Homo sapiens: one gene and its partners. The protein of the gene in region 1 purifies or fractionates together with the protein of each later gene. This does not show direct contact. Each region holds a gene or a part of one and is shown in the gene's direction. Other genes may lie near its edges.

What was found.
Region 2: the proteins of PLAC1 (region 1) and OBSL1 purify together in Homo sapiens (affinity purification with mass spectrometry; 3 studies listed by BioGRID and IntAct, with this or other methods). This does not show direct contact.
Region 3: the proteins of PLAC1 (region 1) and ING3 purify together in Homo sapiens (affinity purification with mass spectrometry; 3 studies listed by BioGRID and IntAct, with this or other methods). This does not show direct contact.
Region 4: the proteins of PLAC1 (region 1) and TADA1 purify together in Homo sapiens (affinity purification with mass spectrometry; 3 studies listed by BioGRID and IntAct, with this or other methods). This does not show direct contact.
Region 5: the proteins of PLAC1 (region 1) and BRD8 purify together in Homo sapiens (affinity purification with mass spectrometry; 3 studies listed by BioGRID and IntAct, with this or other methods). This does not show direct contact.

What each region holds. Positions count from the first base shown.
Region 1 is NC_000023.11:134,655,221-134,659,852, reverse strand, and holds the start of PLAC1 (placenta-specific protein 1 precursor), read left to right. Parts: upstream 1-1,381; 5' UTR 1,382-1,525; intron 1,526-4,632. UniProt on the Homo sapiens protein: May play a role in placental development.
Region 2 is NC_000002.12:219,561,073-219,565,203, reverse strand, and holds part of OBSL1 (obscurin-like protein 1 isoform 1 precursor), read left to right. Parts: intron 1-1,576; coding exon 1,577-1,849; intron 1,850-2,529; coding exon 2,530-2,802; intron 2,803-3,195; coding exon of another isoform or gene 3,196-3,320; exon of another isoform or gene 3,321-3,482; intron 3,483-4,131. UniProt on the Homo sapiens protein: Core component of the 3M complex, a complex required to regulate microtubule dynamics and genome integrity. It is unclear how the 3M complex regulates microtubules, it could act by controlling the level of a microtubule stabilizer.
Region 3 is NC_000007.14:120,964,001-120,968,131, forward strand, and holds part of ING3 (inhibitor of growth protein 3), read left to right. Parts: intron 1-741; coding exon 742-838; intron 839-1,255; exon of another isoform or gene 1,256-1,471; intron 1,472-1,702; exon of another isoform or gene 1,703-1,833; intron 1,834-2,625; coding exon 2,626-2,697; intron 2,698-3,528; coding exon 3,529-3,648; intron 3,649-3,933; coding exon 3,934-4,091; intron 4,092-4,131. UniProt on the Homo sapiens protein: Component of the NuA4 histone acetyltransferase (HAT) complex which is involved in transcriptional activation of select genes principally by acetylation of nucleosomal histones H4 and H2A.
Region 4 is NC_000001.11:166,873,005-166,877,776, reverse strand, and holds the start of TADA1 (transcriptional adapter 1), read left to right. Parts: upstream 1-1,512; 5' UTR 1,513-1,543; coding exon 1,544-1,617; intron 1,618-4,772. UniProt on the Homo sapiens protein: Probably involved in transcriptional regulation.
Region 5 is NC_000005.10:138,150,809-138,154,939, reverse strand, and holds part of BRD8 (bromodomain-containing protein 8), read left to right. Parts: intron 1-2,179; coding exon 2,180-2,458; intron 2,459-3,931; coding exon 3,932-4,131. UniProt on the Homo sapiens protein: May act as a coactivator during transcriptional activation by hormone-activated nuclear receptors (NR). Isoform 2 stimulates transcriptional activation by AR/DHTR, ESR1/NR3A1, RXRA/NR2B1 and THRB/ERBA2.

The sequences.
Region 1 (4,632 bases):
AATCTCTCTGTTCTTCAGTTTCAGTATCTGGAAATCAGGGCTGTTCTACAAATGAGTTATTAGGTTGGTGGAAAATGATTGCAGTTTTTGCCACTAATTTCAACGGCAAAAACCGCAATTACTTTTGCATCAACCTAAATAATATAAGCCAAGCACTTAGGACAGCATCTGGCACATAATTAAGCACTTGGCTAGTGTAATTACTGTTATTTGGCAGGAATTGTTTTACCTTGGAGTCTTATGTACTTTGGGTTATGTGACTGCCTACTCTCAGCTCAAAGTGGCCAGTACACTTCTGAACTGTGTTTTTTCCCCCATCCCCACTTATGGGCCAGCACTTACCACTACTGACTTTCCATAGGAGCTCAGATTCCACTCCCGTTCCCACCCTGCCATTCAAACCCTTCGCCCAGGATATGTGACCACCTTTGGTTCTTCTGTGGGCTGTGTAGTTGCTGCTGTGGCTTTGAGCTCCCTCTTCATTTCTGGCACTAGAATATGTTTATTTTTGCTTTTGCTCTCTACAACATATTTAAATTTTTGAAAAAACAATGTGTTTTGAGCAGGGGAGGAGCTTCCTGCAACAGCTCAGGCAACCATACTGACCAGTAATCCCTAAAAATTCTTTCTTTTTTTTTTAAATTTTAAGTTCCGGGGTACATGTGCAGGATGTGCAGGTTTGTTATGTAAGTAAACATGTGCCATGGTGGTTTGCTGCATCGATCAACCCATCACCTACATATTAAGCCCAGCATGCATCAGCTATTTTTCCTGATGCTTTCCACCCGCCACAGCCCCCCAAGAGGCCACAGTGTGTGTTTTCCCCTCCCTGGGTCCATGTGTTCTCATTCTCCCTGAGCATTCTTCCTGAAGAGGCTTACCTCTCATTTGGCAGTGGGCTCCTTGAGAGAACTGGGGACAAAGGCTGGATTCCTGGTGGGAAGGGACATATATTATTTGTTTTTGTATTCCCTATGCCTGATATGTGTTTACTGAGTAAAGACACGAAAGACTGCCTTGGCAACAGCAAGCACTACAAGTGGCCAGCTCACTGCTTGATTTCTCTAAGAATTACCACCACCATGTTGTAACCCTCCTCCCCGCCCTTCTTCCTGTGAATGAGTTCTGTCAAGGTGACATGGCTTCTAACACATGACAGTAGGTATCATTCAATCACTGATGATCTCAAGGGTGAGTAGCTTTCTTTTACTCTGTAAACAAAATGCCAAACTGGGAAATGCTGCAGAGGCCACATATTATTCTGACTTTCAGAGTGTTGTTTCGAAAGCACCAGAGTAAAATGTTAAGCAGGTAGCTGATGCAATCTGGCAAAGTCAGTATATAGCTCTATTTATATAAAGACACACACATATATCAGACCATCAGAAGGATTTGTATAAAGAGTGACTCTCCTATGAAGGTAAAGGCCACCCCTCTTCAGTTCCAGTGACTGAGATACATTTTTCCAATCCTGGGGGCAAATACAGACACAGCAAGTTCCTTCTTCCCTTTGGAAATTTGGCAGGTAAGTCAAGTCTGTCTCTGTTGCCACATTCTCTCGAGATTTTATGACTGTGCACATGGCCTGTGTGAAAGCTTCGCTTAGGTCACCTTATGCCTTGGCAGCCAGCATGGTGTATGACGATTCAGGAAGACCCTGGTGTTTCCCAGATGGGGCCAGATCTGGCCATGCAATTATTGCCCTCCAGCTGGGAAATGTGACATGGGGGTGATGAAGTGGCTGCTGAGAAGGAGGCAGTTAGACTCTGAATTTGGTCTGTTCTTTATTTAAATCTAAAGATTGAACACACACACACATAGATCTAAAATCAATATCATACATTCACACACACACACACTCACACATGCACCACTCCCCAACTGCACAGGGTATTTTTTAGGGATTCATGTGGGATTCCCCTACACATATTTCCCAGTCTAACTGCCTATTCTTTCCCCTGTTTACTTGCCATCTCATCATTCTCTCTTCCTTTACTCTCCTACTTATCTTTATCATTGCTTTTAGCTGTGTGTTCCTATTAACCCAGATGATCAGTTTCAGACTCTTTGAGAAAGAGACAGGGACCCTAAATCCATTGTGAGCTGCTTTGTCTCATTCTCTCCCATGACCACAGAGAGGCATGTCTCTGGACCTTGATTCTGAGAGGAAACAGATTCACAGAAACTACACCACCACTGGTAGCACAATGTTACTCTCAGGGTGGACATTCTCATTTATAAAAAGAGTAGTAGAATAAATTGCATTCTAATCCCAGCAGCTCTAATAACTTGTCCTTCTTTCTATCAATATACTGATCACTGTTACTACAGAGGCAGCAGGGAACAAATATGGGCTCTGTATTTAAACAAACTTGGGTTCAAGTTCCAGCTTCAGCAGTTAATAGCTGAGTGACACTGGGCAAGTTGCTTATCCTCTCTGATCTTCTGTTTCTTTATCTGCTTAATTGGCATCAAATAGAATATACAGACAGTCCCCAACTTGCAATGGTTTGGCTTGCAATTTTTTGACATTATGACGGGCTTATTAGGGTACTGAATGCATTTTTGATTTATGATATTTTTGATTTGTGATGGTTTTATCGGGACATAGCCCCATCATAAGTCAAGGAGCATCCGTATGTTCAAGGTGCTGGATACATAATTGGTGCTCTATAAATAGGTGGAATTACTATGATTATTTGGATGATGGTCGCAACCCTTGGTCCTTCCTGTCTCACTGGAGTTAGAGACAATCAGAGTTAAAGGAGGACTCTAAAGATGAACAAAGCATCTTCTCACGGTCAAGTGACAGCTCGGAGCTGCTGGATGCTCAGCATAGCACTAGCTCTCTAACAGGCTCTAGGAGAAACAATGGGTAGATCTACTCCTGCTCTCAAGGGGCCCTGGCCATCCAAATGAGCAGATAAGATGAAAATGTCTACAAATGTTAAAAAAGAAAAAAAAAAGGCTGGGCATGGTGGTTCATTTCTGTAATCCCAACACTTCGGGAAGCTGAGGCAGGAGGATTACTTAAGCCCAGGAGTTCAAGACCAGCCTGAGCAATGTAGGGAGACACCGTCTCTACAAAAACTAAAAATAAAATATCCAGGCTTGGTGGGGCACACCTGTGGTCCTAGCTACTCAGGAGGCTGAGATGGGAGGATCACTTGAGCCCAGGAGATCGAAGCTGCAGTGAGCCATCATCACTCCACTGCACTCCAGCCTGGGGGACAGAGCACAACCGCATCTCAAAAAAGAAAAGAAAAAAAGAGGAAAATGTAAATATGAGTGGGCAATAAGACTAGTATCTGCTAAATTCTTCCCTATAGACCACAAGTGCTATGGAAATTCAGAGAGGGGGTGCTGCTGTGAATAAGAAGTCCTCCTGGAGGAGGCAAGGCTTCAGCTGAGACTTAAAGAAAGGATGAGGCTTGGAGTGACCCCTAGAAAAGGTGGGAGCTCTGTGGGCAAATGCTGGTCAAACTTGAGAGGTAGGCACAACTGTTATTTCCAATTTACAGATAAGAAAATGGAAGGCCAGATAAGCCTAGTGACTTCTCTAAGGCCACTCAGCAAGTAATGGCAGCACTAGGATTTAGGTAGAGATCGGTCTCTGTCTGGTGTTGAAGGCTACATTCAAAGCTGGCTCTGACTGAAGAAAGATGAGAAATAGGAAATAGCCATTGATGGTTTTCCAGATAGGAGTGACGTAGAAAAGGCAGTGTGTTTTCTATATTCACAGTGCAGCAGGTGTTCAGGGGACGATTCTGGCACTAGAGGGGTCAATTAGGAGGCAGTTGCAATACTTTAGGGCTGAGGTATTGAAGGCCTGATCCAGGGTAGGGGCATGGTGGGACTAGAGAAGGCATTAAGCCATTAGGCATGTCAAAGGGCAAATTCACAGACTTGGGAACTGGCTGAATAAGGAGAAAGAAGGACAGCGGGATGATTAAAGAATCTGATATGGGAACCAGAAGACTGGGCAATGCTGCTACTAGGCATATTGGGATAGCATACTCATTTTAAGGTTGCTGTTTATATAAAACAGAGCCTGGTTTCTTTTATTATTATTGCTATTAAATCTTTTTATTTTTTTAAAAACACACATACCATAAGAAAACAGACAAATTCAGAATATGAGATATTCTACAAGACAACTAGCCTGAACTCTTCAAAAATTCAGTGTCACACACAAAAATTAGGAGCATGCACTGTTCTAGATTAAACGACACTAAAGGGACATAAGTAGATGCAATACACAAACCTTGGTTTTGGATTCTGGATTTTACAAAGCTATGAAAGACATTTGGGGAATATTGGGGCAATTTGAATATGGATTGGAAATTAGATTATATTAGGAATTATTGTTTATTTTCTTAGCTGTGATAATATATTGTGGTTAGGAGGGAGAATCTTCTTATTCTTTAAAGAGTCATTCTGAAGAATTTAGTGGGAATGTGTTATGATGCCTGTGACCTTCAAATATATGTGTGTGTGTGTGTGTGTGTGTGTGTGTGTGTAAATAGATTGACTGATAGAAACAGAACTACACAGCAACTATGTTGAAATGTTAATTGTGGAATCTTGGTGGTTATATGTATGTTCATTGTTCTACTTCTTTGATCTATTTGT
Region 2 (4,131 bases), on another chromosome or scaffold:
CTGATTGTGGGGCCGCATAAGCCATGCCCTCTGGTCTGCTGCCTACTTGGGGGAGTCCTTTACAGGGAGAGTCCAGTGGCCCAGGGGACATGTTTCAGATAACTCTGCACTTGCTTTTTTGTTTCTTGTTTTTTTTGGAGACAGGCTCTCACTCTGTTGCCCTGGCTGGAGGGCAGTGGCGTGATCTCAGCTCATTGCAACCTCCGCCTCCTGGGTTAAAGCGATTCTCTCACCTCAGCCTCCCAAGTAGCTGGGACTACAGGTGCGCGCCACCACGCCCAGCTAATTTTTTTATTATTTGGTAGAGACGGTTTCACTATGTTGGTTAGGTCACCCCTGACCTCAAATGATCTGCCCGCCTCAGCCTTCTAAAATGCTGGGATTATAGGTATGAGCCACCATGCCTGGCTTTCTTTCTTTCTTTCTTTTTTTAAGATGAGGGTCTCACTGTTGCCCAGGCTGGCCTTGAACTCCTGTGCTCAAACGATCCTCCTTCCTCAGCCTCCTGAGCAGCTGGGATTATAGGTGTGTGCCACGCACAGCGTGCCTTTGCCTCCTAAACCCCTGATACACTAACACTGTCTCGCTGTCCACATAGCCTCTGCTGGGTTGGGTGGGGGAACAAAATGCAATTAAGGGGAGGAGAGATGGGAGCAAACACTTTTTGGACACTTACTCTGAGCCAAGCACTATGCTAAGTATTTTCAATATACACTCTTTCATTTAATCTTCACAACTCGATGAGGGGCAATATATCTCCAGTTCACAGGCAAAGAAATGGAGGCTGTAAGAGGTTATGTGACCTCCGTCACACCATAGCTTGGCGACACACACAGGATTGTTCTGTTCCTGCTGCCTCAGATAGAGTCAAACAGAAGCATCGAGTGCAGTCACCCCGTGGTTCTCACAAGGCAGTCCGTAGGCTGGCTGCTTTAGGAAGCTCCTGGAAGCTGGTTATAAATCCCTGGACTGTCCAGAGCCCCAGTATCCAGGGTGGAGCCTGAAGATCCTTTCCTAACAAGTGCAGACTCTCTGAGAGAGCAGCTTGGGAACCATGGATCCCACTCATCTCACTGAGTGGGAGTCCTGTTTTCCACACTGTGGCCCCTGCCTGAATGCACCCAGTGACAGGGAACCCACTACCTGGAGAGTGGCTGTCTCACTGTTGCCACTTGTTGGATCATCCTTCACCTCCTGCCCACCCTGGGGTCTTTCTCGTAATAGAGGCAGTAAGCATGGCCCTGATGTGACTTGTGACAGTGACCTCCCTTCAGCCTAGACAAATGGTGGCTGCCACTCTGTGAACTCTCTGTGCTTCCTTCTCTCTATGTACTCACCCCGCCACCTCTGATCCTTTGGGGACCTACAGAGCACTCTGGTGCCACATGATCTCCTGCCATGCCTCACCTGCCATGCCCTCAGCATTCCTTGTCATTGTCCCTGAGTCCCTACACAGCAGGACCTTAGCCCTCCTCCAGTGTCCTCTTGTGCAGAAACAGTGTCTCCTGGCCACACAGCTAGTTTGGACTCATTGTGCGGGGGTGTCTGTGCAATGCCATCTCTGCTTCCCACCCAGATCCTCCCGTGCACATCGTGGACCCCCGAGAACATGTGTTCGTGCATGCCATAACTTCCGAGTGTGTCATGCTGGCCTGTGAGGTGGACCGAGAGGACGCCCCTGTGCGTTGGTACAAGGACGGGCAGGAGGTGGAGGAGAGTGACTTCGTGGTGCTGGAGAATGAGGGGCCCCATCGCCGCCTGGTGCTGCCCGCCACCCAGCCCTCAGACGGGGGCGAGTTTCAGTGCGTCGCTGGAGATGAGTGTGCCTACTTCACTGTCACCATCACAGGTGGGGGGCCAGGTGGGCCTCGGAGGCACAGGGGAAGGTGCCCCTGCTCCCACTGGAACAGCTGCCACACCTTCACTCCCAGGCCACTGTTCCCCGCCCCTACTGCCCTCCCCCTGGCAGATCGGACCTCCTCCCTTTCTCCTCAAGCTATGGTCTAGTCACATTCAGGAAACGTGTTATCATAAGCACATTGGTCTTGGCTAAGGAAGCCTGGCTTTCTCTATTCTCCTGAAAACCTGTACCAAGGGAAATCTCTGGGGACAGTGAGTCTATTGCAGGGTAGGGCAGAGTCTAGGGCTGGTGGTCTCAGGCACTAGGGGGGCAAAAACATCTTGGAGGAGGAGACCCCCAGCTCCTCCCCCCAACCCTCCTCTCATCAGTTCCACCCTTCATACCGTCCCTGTCCCAACCCAGAGAATGTGGAGCGTTTCTACAGCCGAGGCTGACCCCGTGGTCCCCTCTGTGCAGCTCCTGCGCAGCAGAAAGTCTGCTGTGCTTTTGTGACAGCTGTATTCGTGTGTCTCTAGCTGTGAGTAACTGTCAGCTGCTGTGAGATTTGGTCTCAGGAAGGTCCCTCTTCAACACATGGCCTACTTTCCAGGGGTAGGGAACACAACGGGGTCAGGGAGGACGGCAGGGCACACCCCTCATGCCCGGCAGTGGCTGTCCCTGTCCTCCAGACGTCTCCTCGTGGATCGTGTATCCCAGCGGCAAGGTGTATGTGGCAGCCGTGCGCCTGGAGCGTGTGGTGCTGACCTGTGAGCTATGCCGGCCCTGGGCAGAGGTGCGCTGGACCAAGGATGGAGAGGAGGTGGTGGAGAGCCCCGCGCTGCTCCTGCAGAAGGAAGACACTGTCCGCCGCCTGGTGCTGCCCGCTGTCCAGCTCGAGGACTCCGGCGAGTACTTGTGTGAAATTGACGATGAGTCGGCCTCCTTCACTGTCACCGTCACAGGTGTGGGCCCAGCCCAGCTCCCCGGGGTCACAGAGACAGCCCTGAGCCCTGGAGGAGCTGGCCACATAGCCCCAGCTAGCACCCCGGGGAGGAGGGAGGTGTGGGCTGCAGGTGCATGTGCCAGGGTTCTTGCTGAGATGAGCCCAGGGCCCCTATTCAAGGAAACAAGCCCCTCCCCGGTGCCCAAGGCCAGGCCTAGCTCTGCTCCACAGCTCATTTACTGAGCACTTTCCCTGAATCAGGCACTGGGAGTAGCAGGTGAGTAATGCAAATACGGTCCCTATTCTGAATGAGCTGCCAGGCTAGGTGAGGAGGCAGCTGTTAACCAGGGGTCGCAAACGGGTAGTCCTGGGGCCCTGCGCATTCCACACATGTGCTTTGTTTGGTCTGCAGAGTCTTACCAAAGTCAGGACAGTTCAAATAACAATCCGGAGTTATGCGTCCTCTTGAAAAAGCCGAAGACCCGGCGGCTCTGGTCCCGCTTCCCCCCATGGCGACGAACAGCTGGCACTGAGTAGCAGCTGCCCCCATAGTTTGGGGCCCACATTCCTCTGTCCCACCTCCCTGCCATTGCTTTTTGCCTCTCCCCAGACTGCTTCAGCCGCTAACCTAACCTGGCCCCTGTGGGCATTTGAGTTTGCGACCCCTGTGTTAAACCAATAAACATGCAAATAAATGTACAGTGACACCTGGTGATAAGTACTGTGAGGGCCAAGGGCAGAGGGCTCAAGAGCACAGAGCAGGAGGGTCAGGGAGGCCTGGGAGAAAGTCACCCTTCCACACACGGGAGCCAGCAGCACGCAGACACGGCCGCTTCCCTCTAGGACTGCACAGCCTGGCAGGAAAGCCAGACGCATTCCAGGATCTTAGAGCATGGGTTGTTGAGGGCCAGTCTAGGGACCCTGGGGCTGGGAGCCACCACCCTGGCCAGGCAACAGGAAGTGCTTTCAAAGCTGATACTGGAGCTAAGTGGGGTGGGGTGTGGGGGAATATTCAAAGCGGGAGAAGCACAGGACAACTGTGGAAGTGACGGAGGTTCAGTGCCGGAGACCTCGGGGTGACGGCTCACAGCGCCCAGCCCAGTGTGTGTCTGGGGCTGGGGGTCCATAGGGCTAGGCAGCTCTGGGGGGCACAGAACCCCAGTGGCTGCACTGGAGCCCCCATCCTACTGCGGCCACAGTCCTGTCCTCTCCCAGCCCTGCCCTGAAAGTCACGCCCCATGCAGAGCTGTTTAGGGCCCCCCTGCTCCTTGCACCCCAGCTAATGCACTCTACACACACAAGCCCACAATGCCTAAGAGGCCTTCTGCACATATTCTGCCCTGTCGTA
Region 3 (4,131 bases), on another chromosome or scaffold:
ATTAAGTTTAAAAAATACATTAAGACATTTTTTGTTAGTTTGAAGTGTCATATAATTTTCTGAAATTAGTCAAAAGATCTCTCAGTGACAAAATAAAATTTTGCCAAGTTAACTAGGGAAATAGTATTATAAATAAAATAATTTTAACCAGATCCTTTGAGGAATGGAGTTTTCTGGCTAACAATCCCTTTTGTTTCACCTCTTCACATAAATGTTTACAAGCATTATGATTCACTCTCATGCCTTAGAGTAATAGATGTATAGAATATAGGAACTTCTTTGTAGACTGAGGATCTTTCATCATTCTAAATAATAGCTTTTATCGTATGACAGTGTGGATGATGGCCTTATAAGCAGGAGGAGATTAGGCTCTAAGTAATCACAGGGCATATTATGAAAAGTGACCAGCCTCCACCATCCCCTCCTCCCATTCTCTAATCCCTAATCAGTTTTGCTTTAATTTTCATGTCCTGACTTCTGAAAATGGAGTATAGAACATTTCCTAACAAGTTGAGAGTCTGGGTCTTAGAACTTAAAATTTATTGAAGGAGACTTGGGAGATTATTTAGCCTAACACCCTCATTTTATAGATTAAAAACCTCTGAGGCATAGATTAATTGACTTGCTCAAGGATACTAAGCAGATTCACTAAAAGAAACAAAAATTTAGGTTTCCTCATTAAGCTGACACTTTAACAGTGTCCCAAATTTTGGTGGTTATCTTTGATCTTCTTTGAAACAGGTAGATCGACACTTGAGAAAGCTGGATCAGGAACTGGCTAAGTTTAAAATGGAGCTGGAAGCTGATAATGCTGGAATTACAGAAATATTAGAGAGGCGTAAGTAAAATTTACAGTTTTCCATCAATATTGGACAGTACATGTGCAAATCGCTGAGAAGACCTTGTCCCACAGAGGCTTTTGAAATCCTGCCCTTCAATGGATGGTGGCATCCAGGCCAGATAGCTTGGACCCTAACAGTTGGAAATGTTTGGGTCATGCATACTGAGAGAGATAATATAGGATATCATCCACTCACTCTTTATGAAACAACATATTAAATCATTTTATATCCACATATACTAGTAAGTTGAGTGGTAAGAACAAATTTAAAGAAATGTAACCATCGGGAGACAAATTAACCATCTTGCATTAAGTGTGTTGACTTTACTCTGCCTCTTTATACACTTAAGCTTTGAGGAAAGTTGTTAGTTTCTCTTCTTAAGAATTACTTTATGGCTTTTCCTTAACTGCATATACTGAAAAAGACTCACATTGGTTTCATAACACTACCTCTTTTTCTTAAAGAAGTGTTTTCTTCTTTCCCTTAGCAGCAAGAAACCATTTTGATATTTCTTTGCAAGGCTCTATTTGATCTCCTGCTATAACTTACCCCTGTCACTTCTTTGGTGTGACTTCCCAAAAATGGAAGCATGAGCACTGTTTCCTTAACTAATTTAGCATTTCTTCAACCTAAATAGGTAATGTACATAAAAGCAGTTAGTGTGGTACTAGGTGTAGAGTAGGCACTCACTAGATGTTAATTGAACCAAATTAATATTATGGCTAATTTCTACTAGAATTTAATTAAAACTTACAAACCTTCTTTTTCTTGGTGCATTTCAACAGTAAGAATATGTACCTGTTTCTACACACAGATGAAAGATTTCTTTACAGTGCCAATCTATGTATCTCTCTACTCACTAGAAGTCAGCTAGGGAAGCCAATCACAGATCTGTCTTGGTATCCATAGTTGCATTTTTGTGTTCAAAAGTAGATCCATCACTTTAGATAATCATCCTATTTATTTGTGATACTTTTCTTCTGGAGGAACCCTATATAAAGATAATAAGTATTTTGAGACAAAATTAAAAATTCTGTATCTGCTTTGATTTTTTAAAAATGCTGATGATAGCTGTGAGTAATGATAATTCATGCCTATTCAGTACTGCAGGAAGGTTAATAAAGCATCCTCTCTAAGGACACAGACATATGAAACAAAATTGGATCAAGTTATAAAAACTGCTCCACCCTGTGCCCTGCCATAATTTCATCTCAAGGGATCAAAAATAAACCCAGAAAAATGTATTTAGAGGTATTTTAAAGCTTGGTGTTAGAGATTCTATTCCTCACTTTTTGCGAACAAAATCCCTAACTTCTTTTAGGAAGTCTTTATTATCATAATGTCATTTTAATGATCAAATAATTTTTTTCATATAGTAATGTCCCCCATCACGTAGAACTTCAGAATCTCCCATTAAAAGGTCTTCAACTCAGTAAAACTAGGTTGACTCTTACCAGTAATGAGATTACAATGTCCATTCATCCATTTATATGGCACCCACTATGGTGAATTCCCTAATTAGACACGAGTATGCCTTGAGCCATTTTGTACTTAAGATTAATATTGGGAAAAGGATAACTTATTGTTTAGAGAGAGGATAACTCAGTGTGGGATGGACAGTGGTGATCCTCTAACATGTCTGGCTAAAATAAATACAGGCATATGCATCAGAACTTGCTAGTCCTCTGCTGGGTAAGGGAACTCATTGCCTGTAGTTGAGTGACATGTGAAGTTCTGCGGTGACATTTAATGGTGGTGTATCTCTGTGCCTCTCTTCTTTTAGGATCTTTGGAATTAGACACTCCTTCACAGCCAGTGAACAATCACCATGCTCATTCACATACTCCAGTGGAAAGTAAGTTTGGTGTAGTGCAGCTAAGTTTTAAAAACAATGAAAACCTTATTATATCACCTATATGTTCTCTTTTTTTAACTCTACACAACCAATTGAGAAATAAATCCCTTCTTTTTTTTTCATTGCAAGTACTGGCAGACTTGTCTTTTTCCTTGGGGGGAGCATATGTGATTCGGAAATGAGTATTCTGTTTTCTCTTAAATGCGTAGAAGGAGAATGTATAGTACTAATAGCATATATTCCCTTCATACACATACCTGATTCTCCTTAGGGAGCTTTTCAACTGAGCATTCTCCTTAGGGAGCTTTTCAACTGAGCCAAACAATAAGCTATTTTGTAATAGGCCCTTTGTCTTTTTCATCCTTGCTTCTCCAGTGCTTAACCTAATGTTTGGCATATAATTAAGTCTGAATGGTTGGTAAGTCAGTGAGTGGATGAATTGTTAGTTAGATGACTGGCTGGCTGGTTGGTAACAGTCAAAAAATGACTATATCAGTACATCTTTTGACACATCAATTTGGTGGGAAACTATTTTAAGTGGTAGATTGTGTTTTGAAAACAAAATTTCCCTCACATTGTATGTGAGCCCATGGTGTATCTTGGGTTATCTTTAGTACTTTGCTAGAAGTTTTTTAAATGGTGGAGAAGTCTACTCTTAATAAACATGTGACACAGAGTTCTGCTTGTCCTGCCTTCTGAGGAAACATCATGTTCTGTATTTTATGAGGAACCCAGATCATACTGTTTCACATTTTAACTGGATATAAGTATTATGCCTTGTCCATAGTTCTCTAAAGTTTAAAAACACATGAATTTTTTATTTATATTTAGAAAGGAAATATAATCCAACTTCTCACCATACGACAACAGATCATATTCCTGAAAAGAAATTTAAATCTGAAGCTCTTCTATCCACCCTTACGTCAGATGCCTCTAAGGAAAATACACTAGGTAAGTTAATTTTCTTAAATATGATTGCTTTGTTTGTTTGTGTTAGAGTAAGGGGAAATAAAGTGTTTCAGGATTAATGAATCATACAGTTTCTTTACCTGGTTAAAGTATACATATGGAGAAAGAAGAAAAAGGAAAACCAAATACATTATTCAGTTGACTTAATGTACAAGTGACATTAAAAATTTTAATGATTATATGTCTGTGCTGGGAAATAATGTAATTTAGACTCACTAACATTATGTTCTCTGCAACCATTTTTATTTCTTTTTTACATCTACACAGGTTGTCGAAATAATAATTCCACAGCCTCTTCTAACAATGCCTACAATGTGAATTCCTCCCAACCTCTGGGATCCTATAACATTGGCTCGTTATCTTCAGGAACTGGTGCAGGGGCAATTACCATGGCAGCTGCTCAAGCAGTTCAGGCTACAGCTCAGGTAAAAAGTAAAGGGTTTAGAGACAAAATGTTACATTTTG
Region 4 (4,772 bases), on another chromosome or scaffold:
GTTAAAGTCAAGTTAACTAGAATGCTGAGTCCAAGTGTGGGGTTATGTGGGAAGGCCAGTGGTGTGTGAGGTACACAGGTAGGGTGAGTTCAGATCATGAGAACATTTGAATGCTGGAGTCTGGAATTTGTTCAGCAGAGCGTGGGGAGCCATGGAAAACTTAAGTGGATATTTTTTAAATGTGTCAAAACTTACCCAGAGTTTTGACACAGAGAGGAAGACTTTGCCTGACCTTTGTATCTCCTTTCACCTGTGTATCTCCAGTACTCAAAGAGTTCCAGACACATAATAGGAGCTCACTGTATGAATTCAAGTGAAGAGAAGGTGCCCGGCTGGCATTGCAGCCAGGACAGGGCTTGTGGGTTTAGGTTGGGCAGTGAGGAAGTTGAATGAATGAACTTAAGGGGACATCTTTGGAGAAATTACACAAGATCTAAAAGCTATCTAGGATTATTTAAAAAACTTTGGGAGGCAATTTGACAATATACACCAAGGCATTTATAAATATTCCCATCATTTGATCCAGTAATTCTATGTGTGGGACTCTATGCTAAAGTAATAATCCTAAAGGAGGAAAAGTTTTATGCATAAAGAAGTTTTGCTTCATTATGCTATATGCTTCAAAAGCAATATTACAGTATTGCTTTTTAATAGAGAAGAAATGGACACAGTCTAACAATTGGGAAACAAGTTGTGTACCTTCTATCTGTGGGGGTATTTAATATGTTGTCATTAAAATTATTCTAAAGACAATGTAATACTACAGATAAATCCTTAAGTTTAAAAACGTGCAAAATTGAACATAGAATATTTTAAGTCATGGGAGTGTGCGAAGTGAAGGAGAAATCTCTCTCAGTTAAGTGTTTGTCCGGGAGTGGTAAAACACTTTTTCCTTCTTTTTATCTTTATCTTTCTGTGTATTTTCCAAATTTTACATAGTTACCTCATTTACTCAAATACTTATTAAGCATCCACTATGTGCCAGGCGCTGCTCTAGAGAATTGCGGGTAACAGTGAATAAAACACAACTCCTGTCCTCGAGCCATAACATTTACAAGATAAATCAACTAAATGTCATATGAGACGGTTAGTGCTCGGGGAAAAATAAGGCAAGGAAAGAGTAAAACTGATACTGCATTTACTTTTTTAAATGGAGGGGTAAGGTACTCCTCCAGGCAGAAGAACAGCAGGCTGAATTCGGAATTGCCCCAGCGGTAACAGAATGAAAGAGCTTGGGACACGCCAGCCTGTCAGCAACGTTGCAGCCGAGGCGGGGCGCGCGGGTTTAGGATGGGCGCGCGACAAGGTGAAGCGGATCACGTGACTCGAGGGGCGGGAGGAAGAGAGCAGAGTTTGGCCGGGCACCTTCCCTGCGAAAAGGCGGGCGGAGCCGAAAACCAAACAAACGACTTCTGAGAGATTGGGGGCGGGACTGACGGCGGCCGGCTTAGCTTCCAGAGCCAAGGCCTTCCGCCGAGTTGGTTTTTGGGTTGTTGATCGCGGTGGCCGGGCGGTCTGCGGTCGGGCTGAGACACGCGGAGCAATGGCGACCTTTGTGAGCGAGCTGGAGGCGGCCAAGAAGAACTTAAGCGAGGCCCTGGGGGACAACGTGAAACAGTAAGAGCTGCCCTAGCACAGCGTCCAGGCCAACACGCGGGTGCTCTCCTGGCCTCGGGCTGCCAGCCCGCCCCGGAGACGCCCGCGTCGCCCGGGGGCCTGTGCAGCCTGGAGTCCGCGGCGGCGGGGCTTCGGGGTTTCTCCGGCCGGGGCGGGGCGGGCCACCTGAACTCACCGCCCTGGAGAGACCGGGCCTCCTGGGCGCCCGGGAGACATCGGCGGGCGCCGTTGCTCGGGACTGTCTGCCCTGGGTGGGGCGGGAGAAGCGCACTTCGCACCCAAGGGCCTGCTGAGCAGGTGCGGGCCCCAGCGCGGGCGTGCGGGATGCGGGAGGCTGACTTGGGCGGAGTGAGCCGGAGCCCTACGCGTCCAGCCAGAGGGCATAGCGCAGGGCGGCCCGCCCCTGGAGGGCTTCCTGGAGGTGGAGGCCTGTTGAGCTGGTGTGATCTGCTACGGATTATTGGTAAGCTCTTTTGACAGCAATTTCGTAAGGCAGACGGACCCTCTGGTGAAATCACAGTCATTGAACACTACAATTATAGTGATGATAGCAGTAGCGGACATTTTAAACATTTTAAGCTCTCTAAATATATTATCTAATCCTTACAACAGATGTGAGATAGGTACAGTTGTTATTCCCATTTGACAGATGAGAAGACTGAGACCTAGTGCGGACAAGTAACTCTTCAAAAGTCACTGTCAGAGTTGGGACCCACGCTTTTGATTCCCGACTGATGCATTAGAGGGGCTGTAAAGGATCCCAGAGACGCTCAGCCAGACCTTCATCCAGGTTATGGCAGGGGACCTAGTGCACAGTCAGGTTAGGTGCAGAATGGCCAAGGGTAAAATCAGTATCCAGTCAAAGCCAAAGCCAAAGAGCAAAAAAGGAACCTCTGGGATACAAGGAAGAGTTTGGAAATTTTCAAAACGTTGTTATTACAACTTTATTTTTCAAAAATATAGGAAGCAAATATAAACGTTTAAAATTACAGTGCCTGTGTTGTTGCTGCTAGATGGCTTCTCTGGTATTCTACACATTTGCATTACTCAGTGGATGCATACTTTTAAATGATGTTGGTGGAGGAGCAATTTGGGAATACTTAATTTTTCTCCAATACTTTCTTTTCATCCTTCTCTGTTCTTTATTATTACTGGATTGAAATTACTTAGGTTGGATGTCATACATGAATTTTGGAGTTTTTCCTTCATGTGAAATTTTGGGGTGGCAGAGTTGACAGTCTACTTTTCATCCTAACAAGATAATAATGGAAACTATAAAAAGATTAAAATTAAAATCTAAACTGTTATTTTAGCATAATTATTTAATTTTTGGTGAACATTTATTTACGCCCAGAGATATGTTTCACTTTGTGTTTGGGGGTTGGGGTCTTGCTCTGTGGCAGAGGCCGAAGTACAGTGGCCTGATCACACAGTTCACAGCAACCTTGATCTCCTGAGCTCAAGAGATCCTCCCCTGCTGTGAGCCTATAACTGGGACTGTAGGCACGCCCCGCTAATCCTGGCTAAAGTTTTTTTTTTCAGAGACAAAGTCTTGCTGTGTTGCCCAGGCTGATCTCAAATCCTGGCCTCAAGCAGTCCTCCCGCATTGGCCTCCCAAAGTTCTGGGATTACAGGCATGAGCCACCACACCCGACTATAGTGTACCACCGAAAATTGTCTTTCGATATTGATGTTCACTGTGCTTATTGAATTAAATATTCTTACTTATTTTAATAGGTAAAATTGACAGCTTTCACCCTAATTACTGTAGCTTTTTACTTTTGTAATACCGACTGATAAAATTTACCTTTTTTTTTTTTGAGATGGAGTCTTGCTCTGTCGTCCAGGCTGGGGTGCAGTGGCATGATCTCCGCTCACTGCAGCCTCCACCTCCTGGGTTCAAGCACTTCTCTGCCTCAGCCTCCTGAGTAGCTGGGATTACAGGCACCTGCCACCACGCCCGGCTAATTTTTGTATTTTTAGTAGAGATGGGGTTTCACCATCTTGGCCAGGCTGGTCTTGAACTCCTGACCTCGTGAGCCACCCGCCTTGGCCTCCCAAAGTGCTGGGATTACCGACGTGAGCCACCGCGCCCAGCCAAAATTTACATTTTTAAGCACATAAGGGGCATTTCACTCTGTTCCATCTAGAATGCTTACAAATATTTGAAAGCAAACGTTTACATACCAAAATAAATCTGAAGGACCTGGCTTGTGTATGATTGCCTTTAACCCTGATTAGATGCAATGGTGACCTCTGTCATCCCATACTCATCAGTTACAGGTTCAGGGCTGCCAAAAGTGTTTTTGAAGTTAGCATTCCTTATTTAGTTTTTAAAGGCCAAAGCCGACTGTCTGATGTTGGTCAAATACTGATGCTGAAGCTAAATTTGGTGCATCTGGAGTGTGAATCCCCACTAAAATGCAATCAAAAGAGATTTTTATGCCAGAAACAGTTAATGGTAACGTATAGTTCTAAATTTGTTTTTCCATTCTCTCATTGTTCTTTTCCCTTCTCCTTAAAAAGTACCTCTGGGTTAAATAGTCAGTAATACTCTTGTACTGTACAGTCATTTCTTATATTTCCTCCATGAGCAGTTTGCTTTGGTTTGCACAACCTATTTAAGTGTGGTCCTCGGTGGTAGGCAAAACATACAGGGTTATGCACGGAGGCTGGATATGAGTTATTTGCTATTTATCCAGTGGTCTGAACATCCTTCATGTCTGACTGGTTGGGTTGTGTGCCCAAGCTGCTTCCAGGAAGACATGGGCTTTGCTAGGCAACTCACTTTGTATAGTAGCCAGTAGAATGCCATGTTCAAATAGGTGCCTGATTTCTTTTGAGGATTTGATCATATGTTATTTATTTATGCATTTATTTATTTATTTTGAGAGAGAGTCTCACTTTGTCACCCAGGCTGGAGTGCAGTGGTGCGATCTCGGCTCACTGCAACCTCCACCTCCTGGGCTCAAGTGATTGTCCTGCATCAGCCTCCTGAGTAGCTGCGATTACAGGCGCCCACCACCATGTCCGACTCATTTTTGTATTTTTAGTAGAGACGGGGTTTCGCCATGTTGGCCAGGCTGGTCTTGAACTCCTGACCTCAAGTGATCCACATCCCCCTTGGGCTCCCAAAATGCCAGGCTTACAAGCGT
Region 5 (4,131 bases), on another chromosome or scaffold:
GAGAAGTGCTTGAGCCTGGGAGGCAGAGGTTGCAGTGATCCGAGATCAAGCCACTGCACTCCAACCTGGCGACAGAGCAAGACTCCATCTCAAAAAAAAAAAAAAAAAAGTTATGAACTTTTTATTATAAACATGGCTATGATGAAAAAATATTAGATGAATATCACTTTATAACTAAATATTTAGACAATATGTCACACTGGAGCCTGGTCTAATAGTCAAAGTCTTCTTGAGAAGGGTTTAAGAGGATACGATTAGAAGTCACAGATCTTTTTGCCTTTAATAGAACTATATTAGGATGCTAAGGAAGAGAAGATACAGTCTTTGTGAGGCAATGGAAAGGTATTCAATTAGTCCAGGAGTTAGAACATGAAATTCCTTGTTACATGGACATGTTGCAAACAAGAAAGGAAAATAAAAAATAACATTGTAGTCCCAAAGCAGTCTGCAAACAGGCATGAGATACAAACACAAGCTCTAAAAGCTGGGAGAAGTGTGTGGAAAAGGTCCATTAAAGGACATACGTTTTGAGTTGGTAGAGAAGGTGATAAATGAGACTAGCAAACCGAATGGAAGGTGTAGGCATCTGGTGGGGGTGGTGGGTGGCAATACGGAGAAAAATGTAATTAGAACAGGGATTATACTAAGGAATAAGGAGGTGTACATGTGAGTGAAGGGAACAAAATAAGGCTAAATTTGTGGAGGACTTTGGCAGATTGAGAAATTTATATTTGAGGTGATAGCTGTTATAAAGCCTTGAGTAGAATAACTATATTTGTTGAGAGCAGATAGGATTAAAGATAGAAAAGCTGACTAGGAGACTATGGCATTTATTCAGGAAAGGATGGACACTGAGAAAACTTATTGTGGGAGAAAACTGGGAAGAGGACTTGCTTACTGAATATAAGAGAAGGAAGGGTCAAAACAGAATTGTGGGTTCTGTAGACTAAGAAAATGGTGATGGGGTCGGGTGTGGTGGCTCACGCCTGTAATCCCAGCACTTTGGGAGGCAAAGGTGGGTGGATCCCCTGAGGTCAGAAGTTCAAGACCAGCCTAGTCAACATGGTGAAACCCCGTCTCTATAAATATACAAAAATTAGCCGGGCATGGTGGTGGGCACCTGTAATCTCAGCTACTCAGGAGGCTGAGGCAGGAGAATTGCTTGAACCCAGGAAGCAGAGGTTGCAGTGAGCCGAGATTGGGCCATTGTGCTCCAGCCTGGGCAACAAGAGTGAAAGTTCGTTCAAAAAAAAAAAAAAAAAAAAAGAAAAGAAAAGAAAATGGTGATGGGGATAAGGAAATTGGGAAGAAGCAGTGATTTTGGAGATAAAGGAAATGTGATTTTTATTTTAGAAATGTTACAGCAGGTGGTAGAGCATCTAAAGGGAATTGACTTTTGGATGCATGGAGAAATGACACCAGAATTCATATAAGAAGTAAAGGTAGAGAGATTTGGGAGCCACCTGAATAGAGGTCAAAGTTGAAACCTCAAAGTATATATACATTTTTTTAAAATACATTAATAAGAAAGCAGAGGACCAAGCATGAACATAGAAGGTAGGGATTTATTGAAAGTTGTAAAAGGGAGAGGACAAAGAAAGATATAAAAAAACCAAGATAGTGGTGTAATGAGAGCAAGGGAAGATATATTTTAAGCTTAATGTTTCTCAACATCAATTTGGATATGACCAGAAGGATGCCAAAGGCAATCCTAAAGTGTGTTTTGAAGGTTTAATGGTTCATAGGTTAAAAATGTTTATACACTGAGGAAAATATCCCCTGCCCCCTCAATTTGTTTGCCTTACGGTTTAGTTATGGATGATTTGGGCTAGAGGAAAATAATTGAGCTAGCTATGCTCCAGTTCTTTCCCTTCTTTTGGTGTGAATATGAGGAATTCCAAGTAAAAATAATTATTAGGTAATATTAATGTCTCTATTATACTGTATTGTATGGTGCAATATCTCTGTTATACTGACATGGGGCTTTCTTTATTCCCAAAGACAAATATAATTTCATCTCATGTCTCCCTTCAGCAAGATTTTAATTCTTCCTAATGATGAATACTTGAATACAAATAAATTTCTGGCCCCTTATTTTTCTACTGAACTCGGGAGATGGAGATGCCTCAGGAATATTTATTTGAATGAATTTAATGCATGTTTTCCTGTGTATTTACAGATGGGACACGAGTGGGTTTGGCTGGATTCTGAACAAGATCATCCCAATGACTCTGAGTTGAGCAATGACTGCAGGTCCCTCTTCAGCTCATGGGACTCCAGTCTGGATCTTGATGTGGGCAACTGGAGGGAAACTGAGGATCCAGAGGCTGAGGAACTAGAGGAAAGCAGCCCGGAGAGAGAACCTAGTGAACTGCTTGTTGGGGATGGAGGCAGTGAGGAATCTCAGGAAGCGGCAAGGAAAGCCAGCCACCAGAACCTCCTCCACTTTCTCTCTGAGGTAACAGTGAGCTCTTATTTCCAAAGCTGGAAAAGCCTCAACTTTCTAAGAGAATGCTTATCCTTACATGCTTCTACCACTCTTAATATTGTTTACTAAAATATAAGCTCCACAGTGGCAGGGATTAAGTTCATTGCTATGTCCTCAGCACTTGGTGCTGATACAGAATATGCACCAAATACATGCTTTTTGGGCCGGGTGCAGTGGCTCACGCCTGTAATCCCAGCACTTTGGGAGGCTGAGGCCAGTGGATCACTTGAGGTTGGGAGTTCGAGACCAGCCTGGCCAACATGGTGAAACCCCATCTCTACTAAAAATACAAAAATGGCCGGGCGCAGTGGCTCATGCCTGTAATCCCAGCACTTTAGGAGGCCGAGGCGGGCGGATCACTTGAGGTCAGGAGTTCAAGACCAGCCTGGCCAACATGGTGAAACCCCATCTCTACTAAAAATACAAAAAATTAGCCGGGCGTGGTGGCGGGCGCCTGTAATCCCAGCTGCTCGGGAGGCTGAGGCAGGAGAATCACTTGAACCTGAGAGGCGGAGGTTGCAGTGAGCTGAGATCACACCATTGCACTCCAGCCTGGGCGACAGAGCGAAACTCTGTCTCTAAATAAATAAATTAATTAAAATTAAAATTAAAATTAAAAAATTAGCCGGGCTTGGTGGCATGTGCCTGTAATCCCAGCTACCTGGGAGGCTGAGGCAGGAGAATCGCTTGAACCCGGGAGGCGGAAGTTGCAGTGAGCTGAGATCGTGCCATTGGACTCCAGCCTAGGTAACAGAGCGAGACTCCGTCTCAAAAGTAAAAAAATTAAAAATAAAAAAATACATGCTTTTTGACTGAATTTCTAATACTTCAGTCATTAGGGGCCTGGGTCATAAGGACTGCTTTATGAGTATCCTTGTAATTCATGCTTTTGGAGTTGTGGGAAGTTATACTTGCCCAAATTTTCCTTGAAGCTTAAAATGCTGTAACTTTAAGGTAGTATTTTTAAGTGTCATTACCTTGGTTAAGGGCTGAGGACCAGAAATAAACAGAATTGGACAGAGAGTTATATGTATGCTGTTATTGAACACATTTAGAAGACCCTAGATCAAGATCAGCAAGCATCCATTTCAAATGTTGCCACTTCTCTCTACAAGTGTCTGTGGTAGACAAAATTTTCAACACTTTATTCTAGACAGCCACTCCCAATTGATCAGAGTTGACAGCTGAGATGAAAAAGTAGAACATAAACTCCTGGAAGAGGCAAGAACCATATCTTTCTTGTTCACTGTAGTGTCCCCACCAACCAGCCCAGTGCCTGTGTATATAAGATATTTTGGCAGATTTTAGATGATTGTATTAATTAAACCATTTTGTCCTCTCAGACTTAGTCACTGTGACAGTGTTAGCATGTGGCATTGTTGATATGTGGATGATGATTTTCAGTGGTGTTCCTGTGCATCTAATAATAAACTTTGATTGCAGGTAGCTTATTTAATGGAGCCCTTGTGCATCAGCAGCAACGAATCAAGTGAAGGCTGCTGCCCTCCATCTGGTACCAGACAAGAAGGAAGGGAAATTAAAGCTAGCGAAGGAGAAAGGGAGCTCTGCAGAGAGACTGAAGAGCTTTCAGCTAAAGGAGACCCCTTAGTAGCTGAAAAGCCACTGGGAGAAAATGGAAAGCC